6 linked regions of the Homo sapiens genome follow. The protein of the gene in region 3 purifies or fractionates together with the protein of the main gene of each other region. This does not show direct contact. Each region holds a gene or a part of one and is shown on either strand. Other genes may lie near its edges. The genes, in order: ANKLE2, NBAS, OR1M1, EDEM1, GUCY1B1 and OSBPL5.

The links.
Region 1: the proteins of OR1M1 (region 3) and ANKLE2 purify together in Homo sapiens (affinity purification with mass spectrometry; one large-scale study listed by BioGRID and IntAct). This does not show direct contact.
Region 2: the proteins of OR1M1 (region 3) and NBAS purify together in Homo sapiens (affinity purification with mass spectrometry; one large-scale study listed by BioGRID and IntAct). This does not show direct contact.
Region 4: the proteins of OR1M1 (region 3) and EDEM1 purify together in Homo sapiens (affinity purification with mass spectrometry; one large-scale study listed by BioGRID and IntAct). This does not show direct contact.
Region 5: the proteins of OR1M1 (region 3) and GUCY1B1 purify together in Homo sapiens (affinity purification with mass spectrometry; one large-scale study listed by BioGRID and IntAct). This does not show direct contact.
Region 6: the proteins of OR1M1 (region 3) and OSBPL5 purify together in Homo sapiens (affinity purification with mass spectrometry; one large-scale study listed by BioGRID and IntAct). This does not show direct contact.

What each region holds. Positions count from the first base shown.
Region 1 is NC_000012.12:132,730,684-132,734,570, reverse strand, and holds part of ANKLE2 (ankyrin repeat and LEM domain-containing protein 2), read left to right. Parts: coding exon 1-186; intron 187-499; coding exon of another isoform or gene 500-555; exon of another isoform or gene 556-712; intron 713-3,887. UniProt on the Homo sapiens protein: Involved in mitotic nuclear envelope reassembly by promoting dephosphorylation of BAF/BANF1 during mitotic exit.
Region 2 is NC_000002.12:15,467,286-15,471,172, forward strand, and holds part of NBAS (NBAS subunit of NRZ tethering complex), read right to left. Parts: intron 1,249-3,887; coding exon 1,097-1,248; intron 520-1,096; coding exon 379-519; intron 123-378; coding exon 44-122; intron 1-43. UniProt on the Homo sapiens protein: Involved in Golgi-to-endoplasmic reticulum (ER) retrograde transport; the function is proposed to depend on its association in the NRZ complex which is believed to play a role in SNARE assembly at the ER. Required for normal embryonic development.
Region 3 is NC_000019.10:9,089,953-9,093,393, reverse strand, and holds part of OR1M1 (olfactory receptor 1M1), read right to left. Parts: intron 163-3,441; 5' UTR 150-162; coding exon 1-149. UniProt on the Homo sapiens protein: Odorant receptor.
Region 4 is NC_000003.12:5,190,629-5,194,515, reverse strand, and holds part of EDEM1 (ER degradation-enhancing alpha-mannosidase-like protein 1), read right to left. Parts: exon of another isoform or gene 2,213-3,887; coding exon of another isoform or gene 2,184-2,212; exon of another isoform or gene 2,159-2,183; intron 1,578-2,158; exon of another isoform or gene 1-1,577. UniProt on the Homo sapiens protein: Extracts misfolded glycoproteins, but not glycoproteins undergoing productive folding, from the calnexin cycle.
Region 5 is NC_000004.12:155,803,772-155,808,449, reverse strand, and holds the end of GUCY1B1 (guanylate cyclase soluble subunit beta-1), read right to left. Parts: intron 3,858-4,678; coding exon 3,703-3,857; intron 3,348-3,702; coding exon 3,221-3,347; intron 2,065-3,220; coding exon 2,041-2,064; 3' UTR 639-2,040; downstream 1-638. UniProt on the Homo sapiens protein: Mediates responses to nitric oxide (NO) by catalyzing the biosynthesis of the signaling molecule cGMP.
Region 6 is NC_000011.10:3,102,452-3,106,338, forward strand, and holds part of OSBPL5 (oxysterol-binding protein-related protein 5), read right to left. Parts: intron 1,927-3,887; coding exon 1,742-1,926; intron 870-1,741; coding exon 788-869; intron 1-787. UniProt on the Homo sapiens protein: Lipid transporter involved in lipid countertransport between the endoplasmic reticulum and the plasma membrane: specifically exchanges phosphatidylserine with phosphatidylinositol 4-phosphate (PI4P), delivering phosphatidylserine to the plasma membrane in exchange for PI4P, which is degraded by the SAC1/SACM1L phosphatase in the endoplasmic reticulum.

The sequences.
Region 1 (3,887 bases), on a different chromosome or scaffold from region 3:
TAGCTCATGAGCTGGGGTATCCCTGGGTTGAATACTGGGAATTTCTGGGCTGTTTTGTTGATCTGTCTTCCCAGGAAGGCCTGCAAAGACTAGAAGAATATCTCACACAGCAGGAAATAGGCAAAAAGGCTCAACAAGAAACAGGAGAACGGGAAGCCTCCTGCCGAGATAAAGCCACCACGTCTGGTAAGCATGTGCAGGCGTGGCTGTGGCAGCTGGGAGGGGCCCCCCATGGCCGGGGTCTGACGGGATGCGCACATCTGTTTCTCGTCTCTTGGTGTTTTTAACGTAAAGGTCTGGTACTTTCCCTTAGGTTAGTATTTTTTGAGACGGAACCTCTCTTTGTTACCCAAGCTGGAGTGCAGTGGCGCAATCTTGGCTCACTGCAACCTCCACCTCCTGGGTTCAAGCGATTCTTCTGCCTCAGCCTCCTGAGTAGCTGGGACTACAGGCGCCCGCCACCACGCCTGGCTAATTTTCGTATTTTTTTTTTTTTTAGTGGAGATGCGGTTTCACCGTATTGACCAGGCTGGTCTCGAACTCCTGACCTCGTGATCCACTAGAGTGCTGGGAAGGTTAATGTTAAATGGGTTGTGTGTCGGGGAGGGTACATGAAAAATAATGGCATCGCTTTGAGCAGTATTGCTGTTTCTGCTTGTGTTTGCATTATCCAAAATCTAATATAGTTTCATTCTGTGCCGTTTTCTCAAAACTCATAATAGCTGAACTCCATTGGCTGAGCCTGATATTTTAGATTTGGTATATTTTCAGGAAAAAGACGAGTGCACATCAGAATACTGGTGTATATCAGACACCAGGGCACGAAGCGCCTTGCACGGTGCGTATCAGACACCAGGACGCAGAGCGCTTCACACAGTGCATATCAGACACCAGGACGCAGAGCGCTTCACACAGTGTATTTCAGACACCAGGACGCAGAGAGCTTCACACGGTGCATTTCAGACACCAGGATGCAGAGTGCTTCACACGGTGCATTTCAGACACCAGGATGCAGAGCGCTTCACACGGTGCATATCAGGCACCAGCACGCAGAGAGCTTCACACGGTGCATATCAGACACCAGGACGCGCAGTGCTTCACACGGGGTATATCAGACACCAGCACGCAGAGAGCTTCACACGGTGCATATCAGACACCAGGACGCAGAGAGCTTCACACGGTGCCTGTCAGACACCAGGACGCAGAGCGCTTCACACGGTGCATATCAGACACCAGGACGCAGAGAGCTTCACACGGTGCACGTCAGACACCAGGACGCAGAGAGCTTCACACGGTGCATATCAGACACCAGGACGCGCAGTGCTTCACACGGTGCATATCAGACACCAGGACGCAGAGAGCTTCACACGGTGCATATCAGACACCAGCACGCAGAGAGCTTCACACGGTGCATATCAGACACCAGGACGCGCAGTGCTTCACACGGTGCATATCAGACACCAGGACGCAGAGAGCTTCACACGGTGCGTATCAGACACCAGCATGCAGAGCGCTTCACGGTGCATATCAGACACCAGGACGCAGAGCGCTTCACACAGTGCATATCAGACACCAGGACGCAGAGCGCTTCACACAGTGTATTTCAGACACCAGGACGCAGAGAGCTTCACACGGTGCATATCAGACACCAGGATGCAGAGCGCTTCACACGGTGCATTTCAGACACCAGGATGCAGAGCGCTTCACACGGTGCATATCAGACACCAGCACGCAGAGGGCTTCACATGGTGCACGTCAGACACCAGGACGCAGAGAGCTTCACACGGTGCATATCAGACACCAGGACGCGCAGTGCTTCACATGGTGCATATCAGACACCAGGACGCAGAGAGCTTCACACGGTGCATATCAGACACCAGGACGCAGAGAGCTTCACACGGTGCGTATCAGACACCAGCACGCAGAGCGCTTCACGGTGCGTATCAGACACCAGGACGCAGAGAGCTTCACACGGTGCGTATCAGACGCCAGGACGCGCAGTGCTTCACACGGTGCATATCAGACACCAGCATGCAGAGAGCTTCACACGGTGCGTATCAGACACCAGCACTCAGAGAGCTTCACACGGTGCATGTCAGACACCAGCACGCAGAGAGCTTCACACGGTGCATATCAGACACCAGGACGCAGAGAGCTTCACACGGTGCGTATCAGACACCAGCACGCAGAGCGCTTCACAGTGCGTATCAGACACCAGGACGCAGAGAGCTTCACACGGTGCGTATCAGACACCAGGACGCAGAGAGCTTCACACGGTGCGTATCAGACACCAGGATGCAGAGCGCTTCACACGGTGCGTATCAGACACCAGGATGCAGAGCACTTCACACGGTGCGTATCAGACACCAGGACGCAGAGCGCTTCACACGGTGCGTATCAGACACCAGGATGCAGAGCGCTTCACACGGTGTATATCAGACACCAGGACGCAGAGCGCTTCACATGGTGTATATCAGACACCAGGACGCAAACGCAAAGCGCTTCACACGGTGCACATCAGACACCAGCATGCAGAGAGCTTCACACGGTGCATATCAGACACCAGGACGCAGAGCGCTTCACACGGTGCATATGAGACACCAGGACGCAGAGCGCTTCACACGGTGTATATCAGACACCAGGACGCACACGCAAAGCACTTCACACGGTGCATATCAGACACCACGATGCAAAGTGCTTCCAAAGCACAGATGCACTGAATGGAAAGAGCATGATGGAAGAGGTTAATCTACAAAATCTAAAAGTGATTCATAAAAACATCAACGATGGCCGGGCACGGGAGCTCAGGCCTGCAATCCCAGCGGCCGGGCGTGGCGGCTCACACTATAATCCCAGCACTTAGGGAGGCCAACGTGGGTGGATTGCTGAAACCCAGGAGTTCGAAGGCAGCTTGAGCAACATAGTGAGACTCTGTCTCTATTTATTTTTTTAAAAAAACAGAAATTTGCTAATAACTAGAGATTCGAATCTGCTAAAATACAAATTAAAGCAGATATACAGTTTAAACTGTGTGTGTGTGTGTGTGAGTGTGTGTCTGTGTGAGTTTGTGTGTGTAAGGTCATAATAGAACCATTAGCCCGCAAGACACTTCATTTATAAAACAAACTCCCTGGAATGATAGAAAATGAAAATGATTGACATACATTAAACTAAGAAGCAGTGAATCTTCAACAGTCACGACCTGTGACTCTGAACCACAGAACTAGAGCGACGTCAGTGCCGTCGTTATACAGGAATCATTGAAGTCTGACCTTGCTGTGTTGTAGCTGATGGTGGCACAGAACTCACTTCTGTAAAGCGGCCTCATTTACAGTGTTGTCTTGTGACTATGTACATTTTAATTAGTAAATATTAAATAAAGTTGAGGCATTTCCTAAGTAGCAGGAGCCACAGCTCAAGTGTTCTGGATCCTCCTGTGGCCGCGGCCACCATCGTGAACACCAAACGGGACATTTCTGTTGCCTGTCGCACAGTGCTGCGCCCGGGAGCTCTTCTGTGTTATCTTCACACCTAAAGCGCAGCAGGGTTACTTCATGGAGTTGTTCTGGACGATCTTCGGGATCCTCTGGGGCACTGTGACACTCGGAGCCCCTGGGGTCGCAGCAGATCGGAGCTGGAGGGTGGCTGGGGGTGCAGGGCAGTCATCTCGCCCATCACCTGGGCTGCCCTTGGCGTTTTCATGTCCCTGCCTTTGAAAGAAAAGTCAGCCTGGCAGCTTTATTTCCCTCCTCGTCTGAAATAGGGTCTCACTCTGTGGCACAGGATGGAAAGCAATGGTGCAGTCACAGCCCACTGCAGCCTCCCCCTCCTGGGCTCAAGCGATCCTCCCACTTGAGCCTCCCAAATAGCTGAGACTACAGGTGCGT
Region 2 (3,887 bases), on a different chromosome or scaffold from region 3:
AGATCAAATGAACATAATTGGTTTGACAAAAATTATTCATTACCTCATATGTTGCAAGTCGATCTAAGTAGGTTAATAACTTCCGTCTACAACGGCAAAGTTCCTTTTGTTCCAGTGTCAACCTGTTTTGAATAACTATGTTAGGCCACTTATATTTACACAGAATTATTTCTCTAGGAGTTATAATGAAAATGATTAATATTCCGTTGAGCCCAAAACTCATGAAACAGTTCAGAAAAGCACAAGGGTAAGATAATAGTAAGTACATTTGATCTAAGTTGCTAAAATAATTTGGACTAATTATTACTAGTAAGGAACACACTGAAATGATTAGTTATTTTAAAGAAACTATCAAATGAACAGTAACAACTCATTTACTTGGAAAAGTTCACTAATTTCAGTAGTTCTTGTCTCTTCTTGAGCTCCTTTTCCTTTTTATTCTTGGCAGGCTCTTCATCAGGTGGTGAAAGCTCTTCATAGGAGATACTGTCAATGTCTATTTCACCAGGTAATGTAAATCTGCAAGTATAAAAGAACAAATATATTTTCATCATTTTTAAAAACTTCGTGTTGTGAAAAGCTTTCTCCTATTTTGACTGATTTCATTATTGATTTCCACAAAAACAGAAGAAAGTATTTGAAAAAAACTTTTGCCATTGTAAACAAAGTGATCATTCATTATATCCACAGATGGGCAAAAAGTCATCAGTAATTATTACAAATAGAAATCTAAAAATCAAGAAAATGAAAACTATTTAGGAAGAGATGTGGGGTTACATTCACTCAATGTAAAGCAGCCTATGCTGAAAATGTCCACAGAGTTTGCTATTTGAATCACTTCTACTTAAGGTCTTCAAATGGTAGTGTCAGTCTCATTTTAATTATTTACTTCTCAGATATACTCTCATATTTATATTTTTTAAAAAGTTCCAAATGCCTGATGAGCAATGACTTCAGGTAAGACAGTATTGATCAAAAGCAACTGCTTCAGTACAGAATAACTTAAATAAAGAAAAGTTTACCCAGTCCAATGTCTCAGTACAAAAGTTTTCACAAAGTCACCTTTACTTTGAATCCAATTCTTTCTGTAACCAACCTGCCATCATCTGCTCCTTTCCCTATTGCTAAAAGAGCCTCCAGGTCTGTGCCTTTTAATCCATACTGAAGCAGTTCTTTTGCAGCATCCACATTTTCAGGAACTCTTTCCAAACACTCATGGAGAACCCAGGATCGCTTCTTTATTTTACTCTGCATATAAAGGAAGAAACAGAGGAATTACAGAATCCATGACATCTTACAACACATTACAACTGCCTTCAGAATTGTAAAGCTATACCTGATGTATTACAGCTATTTAGGACCTTGGCCATAGGGAGCTGCTAGAGGAACTCAAGAGAAAAGCAGCCAGTTGCCTAATGGTGACTACAACTGGATGCGGGGAGTGTGAGTTGACCTGCTTGCTTTCTTCCTCTAATGAGCTACGCAGAAACAGAAAGCTCAGGACTCATTTTTGGAAATATAAAATGTTTCCTCCTAACTTTTATAAATGCCTTTGGTTTGCACCGTGGCTGTATAATAGAGCAGACAATAAGGCAGAAAGGCAAGATATATTCTGTCATAATTAATAAGCATGTTTAACTTTTAAACAAAACAAATGAGCCCATCAAATTTCTGTATTTATTTGACCATGAGATATATCCCAGGGTGTGAATAACTTGATCATAAAAAGTCATGATATGCTGTTTTTTGGAAAGATCAAAGTCCTATTCCTCCCTCCCAACTATTTCCTCCAACTCCATTCAAAATCTCTGACTTTATTAGTCTTGCTAGTGGTCTATCAATTTTGTTGATCTTTTCAAAAAACCAGCTCCTGGATTCATTGATTTTTTGAAGGTTTTTTTGTGCCTCTATCTCCTTCAGTTCTGCTCTGATCTTAGTTATTTCTTGCCTTCTGCTAGCTTTTGAATGTGTTTGCTCTTATTTCTCTAGTTCTGTAAATTGTGATGTTAGGGTGTCAATTTTAGATCTCTCCTGCTTTCTCTTGTGGGCACTTAGTGCTATAAATTTCCCTCTACACACTGCTTTAAATGTGTCCCAGAGATTCTGGTATGTTGTGTCTTTGTTATTGTGGAAGACAGTGTGGCGATTCCTCAAGGATCTAGAACTAGAAATACCATTTGACCCAGCAATCCCACTACTGGGCATATACCCAAAGGATTACAAATCTTCCTACTATAAAGACATATGCACACGTATGTTTATAGCGACACTACTCACAATAGCAAAGACTTGGAACCAACCCAAATGTCCATCAATGATAGACTGGATTAAGAAAATGTGGCATATATACACCATGGAATACTATGCAGCCATAAAAAAGGATGAGTTCACATCCTGTATAGGGACATAGATGAAGCTGGAAACCATCATTCTGAGCAAACTATCACAAGGACAGAAAACCAAACACCGCATGTTCTCACTCATAGGTGGGAATTGAACAATGAGAACACATGGACACAGGGTGGGGAACATCACACACCGGGGCCTGCTGGGGGGTGGGGGGAGGGGGGAGGGATAGCATTAGGAGATATGCCTAATGTAAATGACGAGTTAATGGGTGCAGCACACCACCATGGCACATGTATACATATGTAACAAACCTGCACGTTGTGCACATGTACCCTAGAACTTAAAGTAAAATAATAATTAAAAAATAAAAAATAAAAAAAAAATCCCTGACTTGCCCTCTTCCTAGAAAGAGCTATTATGGTTATAAATTTTAATTAAGATTTGACTCATTCCCTAGGATCCTTTATATATTGCCTCACATCAGTTCTTTCTTCAAATGTCTCTTAATTCACTTTCCCTTTTCCACAGCTGCGGCCTCCATACCAGTCTAAATCATCAACACAAAACATCTAGCACACTGTAGGAGTCCCCTGCCCCAAGCAAGGTTTCCTACCTTCCTTCCACTCCAATTCTCTCTACACCATCTTCCTCTGCTTCCACAGTCAGAAATCCACAACAGTAGATAAATGCCTAAGTCATCAGAAGCTTTCCACATCCTCCTGAACTCAAATCAATATATCTTTTCAATCATGTTTCCCAGTGTTCACTATTGTCAAATATCAGTGCCAGCAAACTGGTTGATGTACAGAGCTCATTTATCCATAAAATGTTTACTGGGCACCTACTGCACACCAGCCACTGAACTAGACATGGAAATATAGCAGTGAATAAAACAGATTTAGTCACTGGCCTCATAAATCATGCTCAGTGTCTTTTAATTTGTTCATACCATCTGTCCTGTTAAGAATGTCTTCCTCCCTTCTCATTCAAGAAGGCCTAATTTAAATCCTTCCAAATCCCTGCTCCAAACATCTTCACTATATAAAATCTTCCATCTCTACCAGATCTATAATAATCACTATCTTCACTGGGTTTCTAGAGTTGTATCTGAAATCTACTTATACGGCCAGTTATTTTTAATATGGTGAACCCCCGTCTCTACTAAAAATACAAAAATTAGCCAGGTGTGGTGTTGTGTGCCTGTAGTCCCAAGCTACTTGGGAGGCTGAGGCGGGAGAATCACTTGAACCAGGGAGGCAGAAGCTGCAGTGAGCCGAGATCGCACCATTGCAATCCAGCCTGGGCAAAAAAAAGCAAAACTCCATCTCAAAACAAAACAAAAAAAATCATAAGCTCCCTATGAGCAAAAGCCACATTTATGCCTGTCCTGTACCCCTTCACAGTCCCTAGCATAGTGCTCTTGCTCTTAACTGTCTATTTAACTAAACGAAATATTCCCCTCCCCAAAAAAGTACTTGCTTTGTCTCTCTTAACATCCCTCAACTCCCTCAGAGACAAAAACTGTCCTTTACTGTATC
Region 3 (3,441 bases):
CTGATGGCCAGGATGATGAGCAGGTTCCCCACGACCATGACCAGGTACATGCAGAAGAACAGGGAAAAGAGAAGCGTCTCCTGCTCTGGCTTTTCTGAGAGTCCCAGGAGGATGAATTGAGATGCACTGGTTTGGTTTCTTGGTTCCATGGGTGTGATTCCTCTGGAAGTATGGAAAGGGGAGGTTATAGGAATGACAGGGAGATGGTTTTGGAAAGTTAGATGCGATCACATCCCAGTTCTCATTTGGGCTAATTATGAGACCAGATGTGTATATATATATATGTGTGTGTGTGTGTGTGTGTGTGTGTGTGTATATATAGAATATATATGTGTGTGTGTATATATATATATATAGAGAGAGAGAGAGAGAGAATATATGTAAATATATTCCACACATGTACGGTGTTGTAACTTTAGAGACCCTGTCTCTAAAATAGAAATATTATATATATTATTACATATTATGTATATATACATATATATATATTTTTGAGACAGAGTCTTGCTTTGTCACCCAGGTTGGAGTACAGTCGTGCAATCTCTGCTCACTGCAACCTCTGCCTCCTGGGTTCAAGTGATTCTCCTGCCTCAGCCTCATGAGTAGCTGGGACTACAGGTGCCCACCACCACGTCCGGCTAATTTTTTGTACTTTTAGTAGAAATGGGGTTTCACCATATTGGCCAGGCTGGTCTCGAACTCCTGACCTCGTGATCCGCCCACCTCGGCCTCCCAAAGTGCTGGGATTACAGGCGTGAGCCACCACGCCAGGCTAAAGATATTATTTTTTAGAGACAGGGTCTTGCTGTGTCACCCAGGAGGGAGTGCAGTGGTGCAATCATAGTTCATTGCAACCTTGAACTCCTGGGCTCAAGCCAGCCTCCTGCCACAGCCTCTCTAGTAGCGGGGTCTACAGGCACACACCATAAGTAAGCCTGGCTTATTTATCTTTTCTTGTGTGTGGTGGAGACAGGATCTTGCTATGTTGTCCAGGCTGGTCTTGAATTCCTGAGCTTGAGTGATCCTCCCATCTAGGCCTTCCAAAGTGCTACAATTGCAGGTGTGAGCTACCGCACTTGGCCTGACAACAGCTTATATATAGGTTGCACTTTAAACCATGGATGAAGTATTTATAGCAACTCTTCTTCTTTTTTGATTAATTAAAAAATGTTAGGGCCAGGCACGATGGGTCCCATCTGTAATCACAGCACTTTGGGAGGGCGAGGTGGGCAGAGAGCTTGAATGCAGGTGTTCAAGAGCAGCCTGAGCAACATGGCAAAACCCCTTCTCTACCAAAAAAAAAAAAAAAAAAAAAAAAAAAGCCAGGCATGATGGTGGACACCTATAGTTCCAAGTACTCGGGAGGCTGAGGTGGGAAGATTGCTTGACCCTTGGAGCAGAGGTTGCAGTGAGCCAAGATCACACCACGGTACTCCAGCCTGGTGACAGAGCAAGACTACATCTCAATAACAACAACAATAATAATAGGGTTATACAAAGCATTCTTTCCCTCTTTTCTTTCTTCCTGACATGGCAAACTCAACATATAAAAAAATAAAGTCTATTTTCTCCCGGAGCCACTATGTCCATGAATGGAATCACCATCCTTCCAGATACCTGTGTTTGAAATTTTCAGTCTTCCTCCTTTCTACCTCCACCGTCAAAGGCAATCCATCAATGAGTGTTACATCCTCTACAAGTCGAACTTCCTTCCTTTGTTTTTTTTTTTCCTTTTGAGACGGGGTCTTGCTCTGTTGCCTAGGCTGGAGTGCAGTGGCACGATCTTGGCTCACTGTAATCTCTGCTTCCCAGGCTCAAGCAATTCTCCTGCCTCACCCTCCCAAGTAGCTGGGATTACAGGAGCACGCCACCATGCCCAGCTCACTTTTGTATTTTTAGTAGAAATGGGGTTTAACCCAGCTGAGTATCTGGACACTAAAATAAAATAGCAACGTGCTCCTTAGTTCACATCCAACAGCTTTATTCTTAGCATGTGTGGCAATTCTTGATTAATTGGAATTAAAATAAACAATAGCACCTGTGGTGCAAATACTATTTAAAAAAAAAAAAAGAAATGGGGTTTAACCTTGTTGGCCAGGCTGGTCTCGAACGCCTGACATCAGGTGATCCGCCCACACTTGGCCTCCCAAAGTGCCGGGATTATGGGTGTAAACCATTGCTCCCAGCCTGAACTTTCCATTTTTTATTTTATCTATTTGTTTTTTTTGAGACAGAGTCTCGCTCTGTCACTCGGGCTGGAGTGCGGTGGCACGATCTCGGCTCACTGCAAGCTCCGCCTCCCAGGTTCACGCCATTCTCCTGCCTCAGACTCCCGAGTAGCTGGGACTACAGGCGCCCACCACCACGCCTGGCTAATTTTTTGTACTTTTTAGTAGAGACGGGGTTTCACCATGTTAGCCAGGATGGTCTTGATCTCCTGACCTCGTGATCTGCCCGCCTTGGCCTCTCAAAGTGCTGGGATTACAGGCATGAGCCACCGCGCCCGTCCTGAACTTTTTATTTTTATAGTCATTTCCAGTCATCTCCTCTTTCCAGACACCCTAAATGAAAGGCTCTTATTACTTCTGAGTTGCCAAGTTCACTAATCTTAAGCTAGCCTCATGCATCCAATTATCTTCCTTTGAAACAATCCTGAAGTCGGCCGGGCGCGGTGGCTCATGCCTGTCATCCTAGCACTTTGGGAGGCCGAGGCAGGCGGATCACCTGAGGTCGGGAGTTCAAGTCTAGCCTGACCAACATGGAGAAAACCCGTCTCTACTAAAAATACAAAATTAGCCGGGCATGGTGGCGCATGCCTGTAAACCCAGCTACTCAGGAGGCTGAGGCAGAGGTTGCAGTGAGCCCCGATTGCGCCACTGCACTCCTGCCTGGGCAGCAAGAGCGAAACTCCATCTCAAAAAAAAGAAACAATCCTGAAGTCACTAAATTAATCTTCCTGCATTACAGTTCTGATCATGTTACTTTTATATTTTTATTTTTTATTTTTGTGATTTCTAATGAACACCTTGCAGATGTCACTTTTATTCACTCACGCATTCGTTCATTCATTTTGTAAAAAATTATTGGTAATTGCAATATATAGTGACAGGATCTGGCCTGAGTTGTGGGGACAAATATATGAAAATACACAGACCCTGTCCTCAAGACATTTGAAATCAGGAATTGTTTGTCTTTGTTCATTTTTGTGACCAGCATCTTGTCTGGGATACAGAAGACATAAACATAATTGTTCCATATACGCATGAATCAGTGATGGTTATCCTGTATTGCCAGGCACTGATCGAAGGTCTCTGCTAATTTGCTACTCACGACAACAGAATAATGTTAGTGCTATTTCATGCAGGAAGAAATGGAAGCACAGAAGATTAATACAATCAAATGGGGTTTAACTGAGAGCAGGTGGCTGGATTAGCCCAAGCA
Region 4 (3,887 bases), on a different chromosome or scaffold from region 3:
GAAACAACCTTAAGAAACCAACTTCAGGATGACAAGGGTGAAGCTCCTCAGGCACTGTGGTATGTCTTTGTAACACTTTACAAAAAAGTCAACAACAAAAAAACTAATACATCTGGGAGAATAGGGATGAAGAACTAGTAAAATAAAGGACAGTTTGAGAAATTCTGGGGACTTCATTTATTTATTTGTCCCATTCCCAAAAATCCAGAAAATAAGTGCAGAAGCTTGGAAAAAATGATAGTAAGAGAAGACATAAGACAACTGTTTAAAGATTTTATTAGCAACCAAAGCAAAAAAGCTCCAGTTTTATTTCCAGCAAGATGCATTGATATCTGCAGTCTTCCATCATATCCCAAAGCACTTCATCTGCTCCTCGGATCACCCTAATGGGTCCTTATCTCACCTTCCAGTCAGAGAAGCTTCTGGTGCACAGCACCTCTCGTGTTGTGATGGCTTGCTGTGGTCTCTGAAAGGCCTGTGCCTCAGCTGGGGAAAATGGGGCTTATGTGAAAGAGGCATAACAGCTCCAATGTCTCATTTTATTTGAACCCTCCAGTTGCCTTGTTTTATGCTGTTACACCATCTAATCTAAAGCAAAGAATTTATAGTAAAATTTTAGGCTGGGTGCGGTGGCTCACGCCTGTAATCCCAGCACTTTGGGAGGCCGAGGTGGGTGGATCATCCAAGGTCAGGAGTTCAAGACCAGCCTGGCCAACATGGCAAGACCCTGTCTCTACTAAAAATACAAAAATTAGCTGGGCGTGGTGGCAGGCGCCTGTAATCCCAGCTACTAGGGAGGCTGAGGCAGAAGAATTACTTGAACTCAGGAGGCGGAGGTTGCGGTGAGCCGAGATCATGCCATTGCACTCCAGCCTGGGCAACAAGAGCGAAACTCTGTCTCAAAAAAAAAAAAAATTTTAGATACTGTTTTTTTGAAACGAGATATATATGGGGGCTATAGTCTAGGAACTAGGGCTAGCTCATTTCCTATAAGCTGGGAAGTCAGAAAACTGCTTGGCTGGAAAATTGTACCTGTTTTTTCTATTTGTTGATTTTCTGGAAATAAACTTATACAATAGCAAAAGGTCCCCTCAAAGCAAGAGCTATGGATTCAAATATGCCTCTCAAGCGCAAGTGACAGCCAAAAAAGGTACAAAAAGTGCAAGGGTTGCAGGAGGGGCTCAAAGGAGACAGGGAGATCCTTACGCCCAATTCTGCCAACTCAAGAATGTTCTGCTCTGTGTAAATATTTCACTCTGTTGCTCTGCCGCTTAGAAACAGAGTGGGCTTCAACAGCCCACCTCATCAGAAAACAGCTCCCTCATCATGTAGCATCCAAGCTAGATGGTAATCAGGAGAACCACATGTAACTCCCCTCTCCTGAGTCACACCCAGATCTGCGGCATGTGTCATTCTATCCACCTGCACAGGCCCATGGAAGGAAGGTACTCACTGTGAGCACTGAACTCCTTTCTATGTTTTATTGTGCTTTGCCTTGTAATCTATAACTAAAATAGACCCAGTTTTAAAATATTTTTTACAATGCCCAGTCACTAAAAATTAATGAGCTGCCACAGTAAAAAAAAAAAAAAAAATTACTTGCAGTAACTGTGGGGTTTCTTCTCTCCACTCTAGTCAGACAAATCCTCTCTAAGATCTGGGGTATTTACTCATTAGAACACTTTTAATTCTTTCTTACCAAATAATTGCTACATCCTCTTTCAAAAGGTGCCAAAATAAGGGGGAAGTGGGAGTGAGGATGAAGGAAGAAAAAAAAACACCATAAAACTCTACTGGCCTAACAGCATGAAATTATTATGACTCCATTTATGCCAGCCCACTATGCAGCTCAGACTCTGGATTTGTTCTTTGTAGATATTCTTGTCAATCTCCAGCCTAACCTGATACCTTTAAGTTCATCCAGCAAGAACTCAATACCTTTCCCTGTAACCAGCTGGCTGAACCGCACAACTAAACGCTCCACTTACTTCACCAGGTACAAATGTTCATGGCATTCACCCCACTGTAAATTTTTAAAGTTCACCTCAAAACAGAAAAGATGGAGAAAACCATGGCCTTTGATAGAAAATTTTTGATTATGTAGCTAACAAAATCAAACATATGTGTTTTTAAATTTAAATTCCCATGTATACTTAACCTGTAACAGCTGTTCAGAAATCTACCTGGTGTGGTGTAGGCACAGAGATAACATAAGAAACAGTCCCTGCGTTCAAGGGATTGATAATCTGGAGAGACAAGACAAAGGGAAATGCAGGTGAATACACAACAGTACTCAATCCTCAAATAAGGTTAAAATGTAGAATCGCAGCTCAAAGGAAAGGAATCAAAAGAAGAACTGAGCAAATAAAGGAAAATCATCTTCAAACAGTTAGATGGTGTCACGGAAACAAGAGGAGCCTGACTCTGAAAGAGGGCAGGACTTTCCAAAGAAAGAGGAATGCAGAGGAGGCCATCTTGAGCTAGTAGTACCTAAGCATTTGAGGGGCCAATATTTGTTTGGCTTAATTTGAGATTTGTTTTGTTGTTTTAATAGCAATACAGTTGAGAAGAAATTGAGAATGGTCACATGCCCAAAAGCCAGAACTACAGTTAACCATTCACAGGATTACAAAAATATAATATCCACATTTACTCAAAGAAACTTTAAATTTGGATCCTCCAACCCAAATTAAGGATGTGAGAACTGACTTTGCATAGTTATCTTAGACAGATCTGCTCTTTTTAGAGTGTTCAGGTTTTATTCACTTCATGTTAACTCCTTACCTGATACCTCCCCAAGAACAAGTCACATGTACTTGAGGCAAGATAAGTTTGGAGCATATATGACTACAGAGAAACGGTAAGAGTGTTTAGCACCGAAATTTTCTATGTGTACTTTTTATATAATACTCTAATGGCAAATTCACTCTTGTTAAATGAGTCATTAGAATACATTTGATTTTTTAAAATCTGAAAGATTTTTGGCTGGGCTTGGTGGCTCACACCTATAATCTCAGCACTTTGGGAGGCCAAGGCGGGAAGACTGCTTGAGGCCAGGGGTTTGAGACCATCCTGGGCAACAAAGTAAGACCCCACTTCTACAGAAAAATTAAAAAAAAAAAAAATTAGCCGAGCATGGTGGGGCACACCTCTAGTCCCAGCTATTCGGGAGGCTGAGGCAGGAGGACTGCTTGAGCCCAGGAGTTCAAGGCTGCAGTGAGCAATGATTATGCCACTGCACTCCAGCCTGGGTGACAGAACAATACCCTGTCAATTAAACAAACAAACAAAAAATATGAAAAATTTTTATTACAGATTATTTAGTTTGGGGATGTGAAGTACCCTCCTGTTTCAAAGCCAGCATGACAATACTCTGGTTTTAAACTTTCCTCAAGGCCTAGTATTCGATAGCATAACAGGAGGACTACAGTCAATAATAATTTAACTGTACATTTTAAAATAACTAAAAGTATAATTGGATTGTTTGTAACACAAAAGAAAAATGCTTGAGGGGTTGGATACCCAATTTTCCATGATGTGATTATTACAAATTGCATGCCTGTGCCAAAATATCTCATGTACCCTATAAATATATACACCTACTGTGTATCCTCAAAAATTAAAAATAAATTTTTTTAAAAAATATTTAAAAAAAAGCAAAGCCTGAGAGGAGTTAAAGGAAGGAGAGTACAAAAAATTAAGTTTTCCACTGTTTGTAAGTGGCAAGTGTGAGGCGTCCATGCAAGGCTTCTTTGGCCTCCTCAAAGACAACAAAGGTTTACCAACCAACGGGCCTACCCAGCTCAGGGCACAACCCTTCCCTAATGCCATCCCCACCTCCTCAATACTTCTAAAACCCTCTTTCCAATAACACATCTGTCTCAAAG
Region 5 (4,678 bases), on a different chromosome or scaffold from region 3:
AAGGTAGCAACTAGCAGATAAGGCTGGTTAAGGTGACAATGTTTACATGCTTTGCTAAGGTGTACAGACAATGAGTAGCATTTAAGTGATTGTACGCAGGAGAGCAATTTGGATTTGTAAAAGACCACTCTGGCAGCAATTTGAGAGTGTGGAATGGAGGTGGCAAAGGTAGGAAATAGACAGATTTATAGGGAAGATCTTGCAATTGTTCAAGTTACACATGATGAGTGCCTGGACTTCGAAGAGTGTTGGCGGAATAAAGTAGAGATTTAAAAACATGCAAGATGTAAAAATTGGAATATGAGGTATTCAAAGGCAGAGATGTTTTGTTCAATGACATTTCTCAAATATCTTGAGCAGTACCTACCCAAAGTAGATGCTAAATAAATATATGCAGGATTCTGGGAAGATGACAGTGTCAATGTAGTTTCTGAGTATTCCTAACTCTCCCCCCAAAATAAGCATAACAACTATCCCCACTTCACCTCTTTTCTTTCAAGTTACTCTTTCTCTAAGTATTATTTCTGCATTTGAATATATTTCTTCATTATGAATATCGCATATTTTCATTACTTGTATACATGTCTATCATCCCTAAATGATTCAGAGCTCTTTAAATAAGCTGATGACATTCAATATTTAACTGTTTCCCCTTTCCATGCCCAGTCTTTATTTCCTGTCACTCTGTTGGTATTAAAAAGAAATATAGCATTTAAGAATATGCTGTCTATGAGGAGTCAGTGAAAATTTATAATGGTAGCAAATAGGCAAAATTGTAAAATGTATTTACAAAATAATGGCATTAATAAAATGAAAAATAATGTTAATATTTTTATTGAAATAAAAACTGTATAGAGACACGTGAAAAAAATAATTTATTACAGACTCTTTTACACATTAACATGGAACATTTATACATATATCGATGTGCTGATATGAAATACTAAATTTAAAGGCAAACATTTTTACACAAAAGTAGTTGCACTCTATTTTATAAAGATAGATATTAATAAGTTATCAGAGACATTTAAGAGCTAGAGGCCAATTATTCCAACAGTAATGCATTCTATGCTGAAAGTAAACTAAGTTTTCTGAACATGATGTCCTGGATATAATCACATTCTTCTAAGCTAAGGAAAGGGAGCTCATTTCTGGGAATACAAGGCCAAGAAGGGCTCTAACAGCAGTATCCCAGCAGTGTGTTTCCAGATTTATTCTTGGATGTGGTTGGAGCTCCCAACATTTAGCCTGAACTAATGTAACAGCTCAATGTGAAACAATGCAGCTTTCTGTAACAGCTGCCTGTGGTTAATGAGATTTAATACAGGGGATACAGTTACAAATGATAGCATTTTAGAAGAATTATAATTGCCATATGATTTGAATTAGTAATCAAATACTTTAATAACAGAAACGTGTATTCTATATTTCTGAAAGGGAAGTAGCATACTTCAAAATAGTCACTATTTTCTTAGCATGATATGTTAATTCTTACTTTGGGAGTCTGAAAATAAATTGCATTTTTTCCCCTAAAACTTAGAATTCACTCCTTTAGAAAATGATTTCTATAATGATATACACCAACATGATATAAACTTTATTACATTATAGTCATTAAAATATACATATACATATATGTGGAACACTAAACAGATTTGGTAAACATGATATAAATATACACATGGCCAAACACTGTTCAGTTTCATTTAACTAAATTCAACAAATATTTATTGGGTGCCTACTACTTGCAGATCACCATGTTAGGTAATGCTTGTAGTAGATTTTAAGACACATGAAGCTCACATCATCCACATCAAAAGCCAAACTTTAGATAATATACTAAAGCCTAAAAAGTAATAGAAAGCAGAGCTAAGGTTGAATAACGGATAGTGAGAGATATATCTAGAAGAAAGTCTTGGGGTAATGGACAAGGACAAAAGAAAATCTGTATCCATAGGGAAGAACTGCTCCTGGGCTTGGCACGTGTTAGGAGAAAACTGGAACCTAGTCTGTACTCCTCTTCACCCCATAATCCAAGATTCAGTCATCATCCTGCTTTGTTTCCTTAAATAGGCAGAAGAAAAGAGGGATTGATTTACAGTGATAGTGAGGTTTATAATATCAATTAAATATATTTTTCTCTTTATGAGAGTGTGATCCACGTTCACATCTACAGTTTCTGTAAATCATTCCCACCATAATTCTGGGAAAAACAGGACCGCACGACTAAGATGACCAATGTTTGAGGTAATTACGGCTTAGTTTATCAGAAGAACATCAATAAGCATGTCCACCTCATAGGAAAATGATTTAATGTTAAACCAGGTGAAAGAAGATAAATATTTCAAACCCTGGCATTCTATTCCCTTTAGAAGTTGTTATGCCCTAAAAGCATCTTTAGAGAGTTTATACACACTAAAAGAGAAATATGAGCATGCAGTCTTATCCCCCATGAGGAAACAACACATCAACAGGGTAACAAAGTATCAAACTTGCTTCTGATGCCACTCCTTACAAAAGGCTAGGAAGAGGCTAGCCATGATCTTAGTGTGTGCAAGGCCTCTATGAGAGGTGTGATTCCACTTTGGATGTGCCACTGTTCTGAAGTCCATTCTAGCACATGGGCTCTGCCTGGAGTATAACCATAGTAGTAGAAAGAACTTAAATCTTCCCTAAGGAATTAATCAGATTCTAGCAAGTTAAAAATCACTCATCTATCTAGGAGAAACACATGAGGGACTAGGATTTCCAAAATTCCCCAATCACTCCATAGAAAGATAGCCTGCCCCTTAAAAGGATCTTAAGCTTCATGGTTAAGAAACCTCCCATGAACCACAGCCCTTATCTGTGGTGATCTCAGAGCCAACTTAGAGAGCTGAGGAAAGGGGTCAGGGGAGCCCCTCACAGCCCACTTACCTTTGAGCCAGACTACAGAGGAAGAGCAAAACAACCACAACAGCAAGAAAAAAAGCAGCCTTCTCAATCCAGTCTGTTGGTTTTCATTTCATTAGAGGACAAAAATCACTAAAGTATCCCCTAAAAAGTACTTATGATTGTAATTGGCTCATTAATGTTCAATTATTTCCACTGCTTTACTTAGAAGTTAATTTCTGTTAGCAAGAATTCTTTTCAAATGAAATACATTTTCAGTGATTTTGCTTTAGTTTTCCATACTTATACTCTGTCTTAAGTACGCAAATTACACTTTGATTAGTCATACCTCTGTTCCTGTATTTTTTCTGGATAGAAACCAAACTTGCATTGGTTCTTTTTTGCCCTTCATGGACACTGGGCCTCTGTGCTCCAAGTGGAATTGTGGATCTGAATTTTCTGGAGACATAAGACATCTAAAAGACAAGGGAAGGGGAGTAGAGAGAGAAGTATACACAAGTTTTATAGAGAAGGTGACATGTATCATGTTATAAACCAAGATGGCAAGAACAAATGCTGAAGTTGTACTGAAAGGTAACTCAAAGCTTTAGAAACAATGATCATATCAGGATTTCCTAAGATGATGTGAAATCATATAAAATGGAAATAATGACACAATCTTCTCAAATAAAAAGTAAACAACTCTACAAGCAGTGGGGAAGAGTGAAGGTGATAACTCTGTTAAAGCAACAAAATCTCTCAGAGAATTAAACCACATGCAAAGACACATTTTCTTTGCAAATCAGTAAATACCAAGACATTTTCTCTCACCTGTATGTATATTCAGACACATTTATTTTTCCCTTTTCTCCTGTGGTTTCTGTTCGGCTTGTGAGGTTGACAGTATTCCCAAAAAGACAGTATCGAGGCATCCGCTGTCCTATGACACCTGTAACTACCTCTCCAGTGTGTATCCCTATTGTTATCTGCAAAAAAGAAAGCTTTGCTTCAATCATTTTGATCACTAACACATGAATTTTTTTTTTTTTATTTTACTTTAAGTTCTGGCATACAGGTGCAGAAGGTGCAGGTTTGTTACATAGGTATATATGTGCCATGGTGGTTTGCTGCACCTATCAACCCATTATCTAGGTTTTAAGCCCCGCACGTATTAGGTATTTGTCCTAATGCTCTCCCTCCCCTTGCCCCCAAACTCCCAACAGGTCCCGGTGTGTGATGTTCCCCTCCTTGTGTCCATGTGTTCTCATTGTTCAGCTCCAACTTATGAGTGAGAACATGTGGTGTTTGGTTTTCTGTTCCTGTAACACATGAATTTTTGCTTACTTTATATTACAGAATAATGTAGAGTCATCATATAACATCGTAAGAGATGTCTATAAGAATTTCAAGCATATTATGGACAACTTCAAAAGCCCTCCATGAAATCTCTATCTCCCCAGGGAAATATCCTATCTCAAGAGAAACATTTGAAGTCTGAAGATTTCAAAGATGTGAATCTAGTAACTTACATGAGACATGAAAGAGGTTTTAAAAAATAAACTAGAAGGTACAAGAGGTTTTTTTCTCATCCCCATGACTTTCAGTACATGAAACGGACTAGATAATTTCAAACAGGTAGATAAATCTCCATGTCTATGAAAGAATGTAGTACAGTGGGCTGGATGAAATGCTATAGTCTTTGTTGTCAAGATGCCCTTCTTTATACACGTTAATGATTTTCCGGACAACGATATGAATCAATTGTCCAAAAAGGTTTACATACCATTATTACAATATCTACTTCATT
Region 6 (3,887 bases), on a different chromosome or scaffold from region 3:
ATGCTTTGCCTGTGGTTTACATTCTTGGGGGACAGCCTCAGGGGAATCCTGTCCACTTCTTAGCTCGGAGAAGGGACACGAGACCCTGACCTTGTCACACTCTCCTTGGACCTTGGGTGTAACCTGCACACAGCCTGCTGAAAGCCATGGAAGGCACCAGGCAGTCAGAAGTCCTGCCTCTACCCCAAACCTGCTGTACGACTCAGGCCATCCTTTCACCTGAGCCTCAGTTTCCCCATCTGCACAATAAAGAAGTGGAACCACGGTCGTGGTTTTCAAACTTGCTTCCCATGGAACCCCAGGGCTCTGTGGTGGGGTCAGGGGAGCTGCGGGCCCTCTTGCTCACTACAACGAGAGCAGCCCTGCTGTCACTGGAGTCCTGGGTTTGGGGTTCTAAAAGGGGTTTCCATGGCTAAAAATTTATGAAAACCACAGATCCCAAAGGTACCTTGAGGTTTAAGGTTTAAAGCTCCTTTCTTTTGGCACCATCTGTAATACGGCCTGAGGCTGTTTTCTTGGGGGGTGGGGAAGGGGTCCAGCTTGGGGCCTTGAGGGATGAGACCACCCTTGGGGACCCGGCCTGAGCCATCCAGGGCCCCAACTGTGGGAAGTGGGGCCCTGTCCCCCATCACCAAGGACCTGGGCCCTCTGTGGGGGTGACCAGGATCCTTCTAAGCCATGTGGGGTAGGGGGTGGCCCGGGGACTCAGGGAAGTGCCAAGGGACGAGGGCTGAGCAGACAGACTCCTGGGCCGGAGCCCCACCCTCCCTGGCTGGCAGGGGCTCACCTTGGGCTTCTTGTAGAAGCCAGACAGGTACCACCGCAGCACCAGCTTCATGCGGCTGTAGGCATCCTCCTCCACCGCAGCCCTGCCATGGGGCAGGAGAACGCTGACCCCAGCTCCGGGGGCCGTGGGCCACCCTCCCTTTCCCTGACCCTTCCCTCCTACCATCCCGACCTCCAACCACTCAGCTGGAAACAGGCCACTTGGCCCAGGCGCTCTGGTCACCCCCAAGCAGGATAATTTTCTCTGGGGAAGTGGGTTCTTCTAATCAGAAAGTGCCAGGGCTGCTCCCACGCTGGGGCAGAGAGGACACTGCTGACCTGGGCTGCCAGGGTGCCCCTGTCTCCAGGAAGCCTCCCTGCCCATGCTCTTGTTCCCACCTGCTCCCTCTGCCTGGCTCCTGAGCCTGCAGCCCCCTTCCTGCCTCTGTTGCCCCCTTCCAGTCTCTGCAGCCCCCTTCCAGCCTGCGTACCCCCTTCCAGGCTCTGCTGCCCCTTCCTGCCTCTGCAACCCTCTTCCAGCTCTGCAGCCCCCTTCCAGCCTCTGCAGTCCCTTCCTGCCTCTGCAGCCCTCTTCCTGCCTGCGCAGCCCCCTTCCAGCCTCTGCAGCCCCTTTCCAGTCTGCGCAGCCCCCTTCCTGCCTCTGTAGCCCCATTCCTGCCTCTGCAGCCCCCTTCCTGCCTCTGCAGCCCATCCCATCCAGCTCGAGGGTGCAGGGCTCAGGGTGCATGGCAAGTGCTTGGGACTGACCCCCCTCTCACCACGGATGGCTGGCTCCTCCCAGGCCCATCTTGGAGACAGGGCCCCCTGGGAGGCTACAGCTGCAGAAACAGTGGGCTGAGATCAGCCATGGGATTCTCTGGAAGCCCCCACAGGGCAGGTAGGGGCTGGGGGTGCTGCAGGGTCTCATGCAGATGCAGGACGAGGTGTGGGGTGCCCCTCCCGGCATGGCGCGCACCTGGAGAGCAGGTCTGCGTGGTAGTAGTAGTCGGAGAGCTTGTTCAGGAAGGAGCGCGGCTCCAGTACGAACGTGGGTAGCACCACGCGGGACAGGTCCATGCCTGGCCGTAGCTGCTTCAGCAGGGTCCACATCAGACTCTTGTTCTCCTCTGACACTGTCTCCACCTGGGACGCCTCGCCCAGCTGCAGCAGACAGGCTGCAGTCAGGCCCTGCCCGGAAGAGCCGGGAGGAAGGGGTGGCGGGACAGTGGCAGCTCTGGCTGGAGGAGGCTGTACCTGCCACCCCTTAGGGTGTAAACCCCTGACCTGGCCTCCATGGCCTCATGAGGCTGACTCAGCCCCATCAGATGTGAACTCTTCCCAATGCGTCTCCACCCCACCCCTGGAGCACCCGCAGCCCAGGTCCAGGCCCGCTCCTGTCTCTGCTCCTTGCCCAGGGACCCCATGCCCTGCCCTCCTCAAAGTCCAGGGTGCAGCCTCCCAACACCTGCTGTTGAAACCTGTCTGTGCATCGTGGGACCCTGGGCCCAGGGAACAGAGAGACTGCAGCCCACCCTGTCTTCACAGCTGCCAGGGGAGGCAGGGATTTGGCCTGCTCTTCCATTTTTTAAAAAAGGTTATTGTAACATTTCTTTTTCTGTTTTTGAACCACTTTATTGAGGTCTGATTGATATACAGAAGCCTTCAGATATTGAATGTGGACAACTGGGTGAGTTTGGAGGTGAGCCTGCTCCTGCAAAACCGACACGGGCATGTGAACTCACCCCTCACTTCCGAAGCCTGTGTGCCCCTCACGAAGGCCCCCTCATCTCTTCCTTTTCTGAGACATCTAACCCTCACCACAGCTCCAGAATACATGACTTGGGGTGGCGGGGCTCCCCTTACTCACTCCAGACTTGCACCTCACCGCAGCCCCAGGGAACGGGGACCCTGGTCCTCCCCCTCCACAGAGGGGACAAGTGACTTGTCCAAGGTCACACGGCTGCTATGCGGCAGAGGTCAGATCTGAACTCAGGGCTCTCTGCATTTTTAGCCCAACGGCAGCTGCCCCAGGGAGCGGGCAAGATGGAGTGTGGCCTGTGAGTCCTGCATCAGGATCTCATCCCCGCTGCTGGGACTCCTCAGGCAAATGGCTTCGCCTCTCTGTGCACGCATGGCCACGGACAGATCCTGGTGGCACTGGCCCAGTGGACAGTGTGTGTGGACACCCAGGAGCCATGTCTGACCCCATGAGGGGTCATGGGGAGCCCAGTGCTGTAGCTTTGGGGCTTGGAAATCATGGGTAGCTTCGGCTGTCAGGAATCCTGCTCTGTCCATGTGCTCCCGTCCCGTCCTCCTTAACCCTCTCCACCAGGCTTCTGCCGTCTTCTCTACTGAGACTGTCTTGCCGTAGGTCCCCACCACTCCTCACTGGTCCAGCAGCCATCCCTGCTTCTCATCCTGCCCCACCTCTCGGACCAGCTGGCTCTGAGACACCTGGGCTCCTGGATCCTCCCACCTCCCTGCCCCACCTCTGTGAAGCCTTATCTGTGCTCGGCCTCTGAAGGTTGGGTGCCCGGGCCCCTTGGCTGCCCGCTCCATGCCCTCTGCCCGGAGCCCCAGGCTCGCACCTGCAGCAGCCCGCTCTGCCTGGCTCACAGCAGCGTCGCTCATCACCATCTGGCTGAGATCTACCCAATCCAACTTCCGAAATACCCTGAGTCTGCCCACTTCTCCCTTCTCCATCACAGCTGGGTCCAGGGTGTCCTCAGCTTTCTCCTAACAATGGGTCTTCCCTACGGGTGGCCCAGTGTCCACCCCCGCCCCTCGGCTGTCCCGAGGCCCTTGCCTAACCCGCCGGTGGCTTCCCCAATACTCTCAGCCTGAGGCCCCCAGGGCCCTCGGTCCACTCCCCATAGGCCCATCCTAACCTTCCCATCCCCGCACAGGAGCCTGAGCTCTGTGGGAACAGCAGCCCGCAGGGAGGCCATGGTGTTCCACTGAACACAAGGATTTCACGGACCACGGAGGAGCCCCCTCTGTCCCTGTGCAGAGCAAGATGCGAACACGACGCTGTCCAAACAACAGCAAGGAACGAATTCCCCTTTCCTGCTGAAACCGGGACTGCCCCTTGCCCTCAGTGACAGCCACGGCCTTGCTCTTGT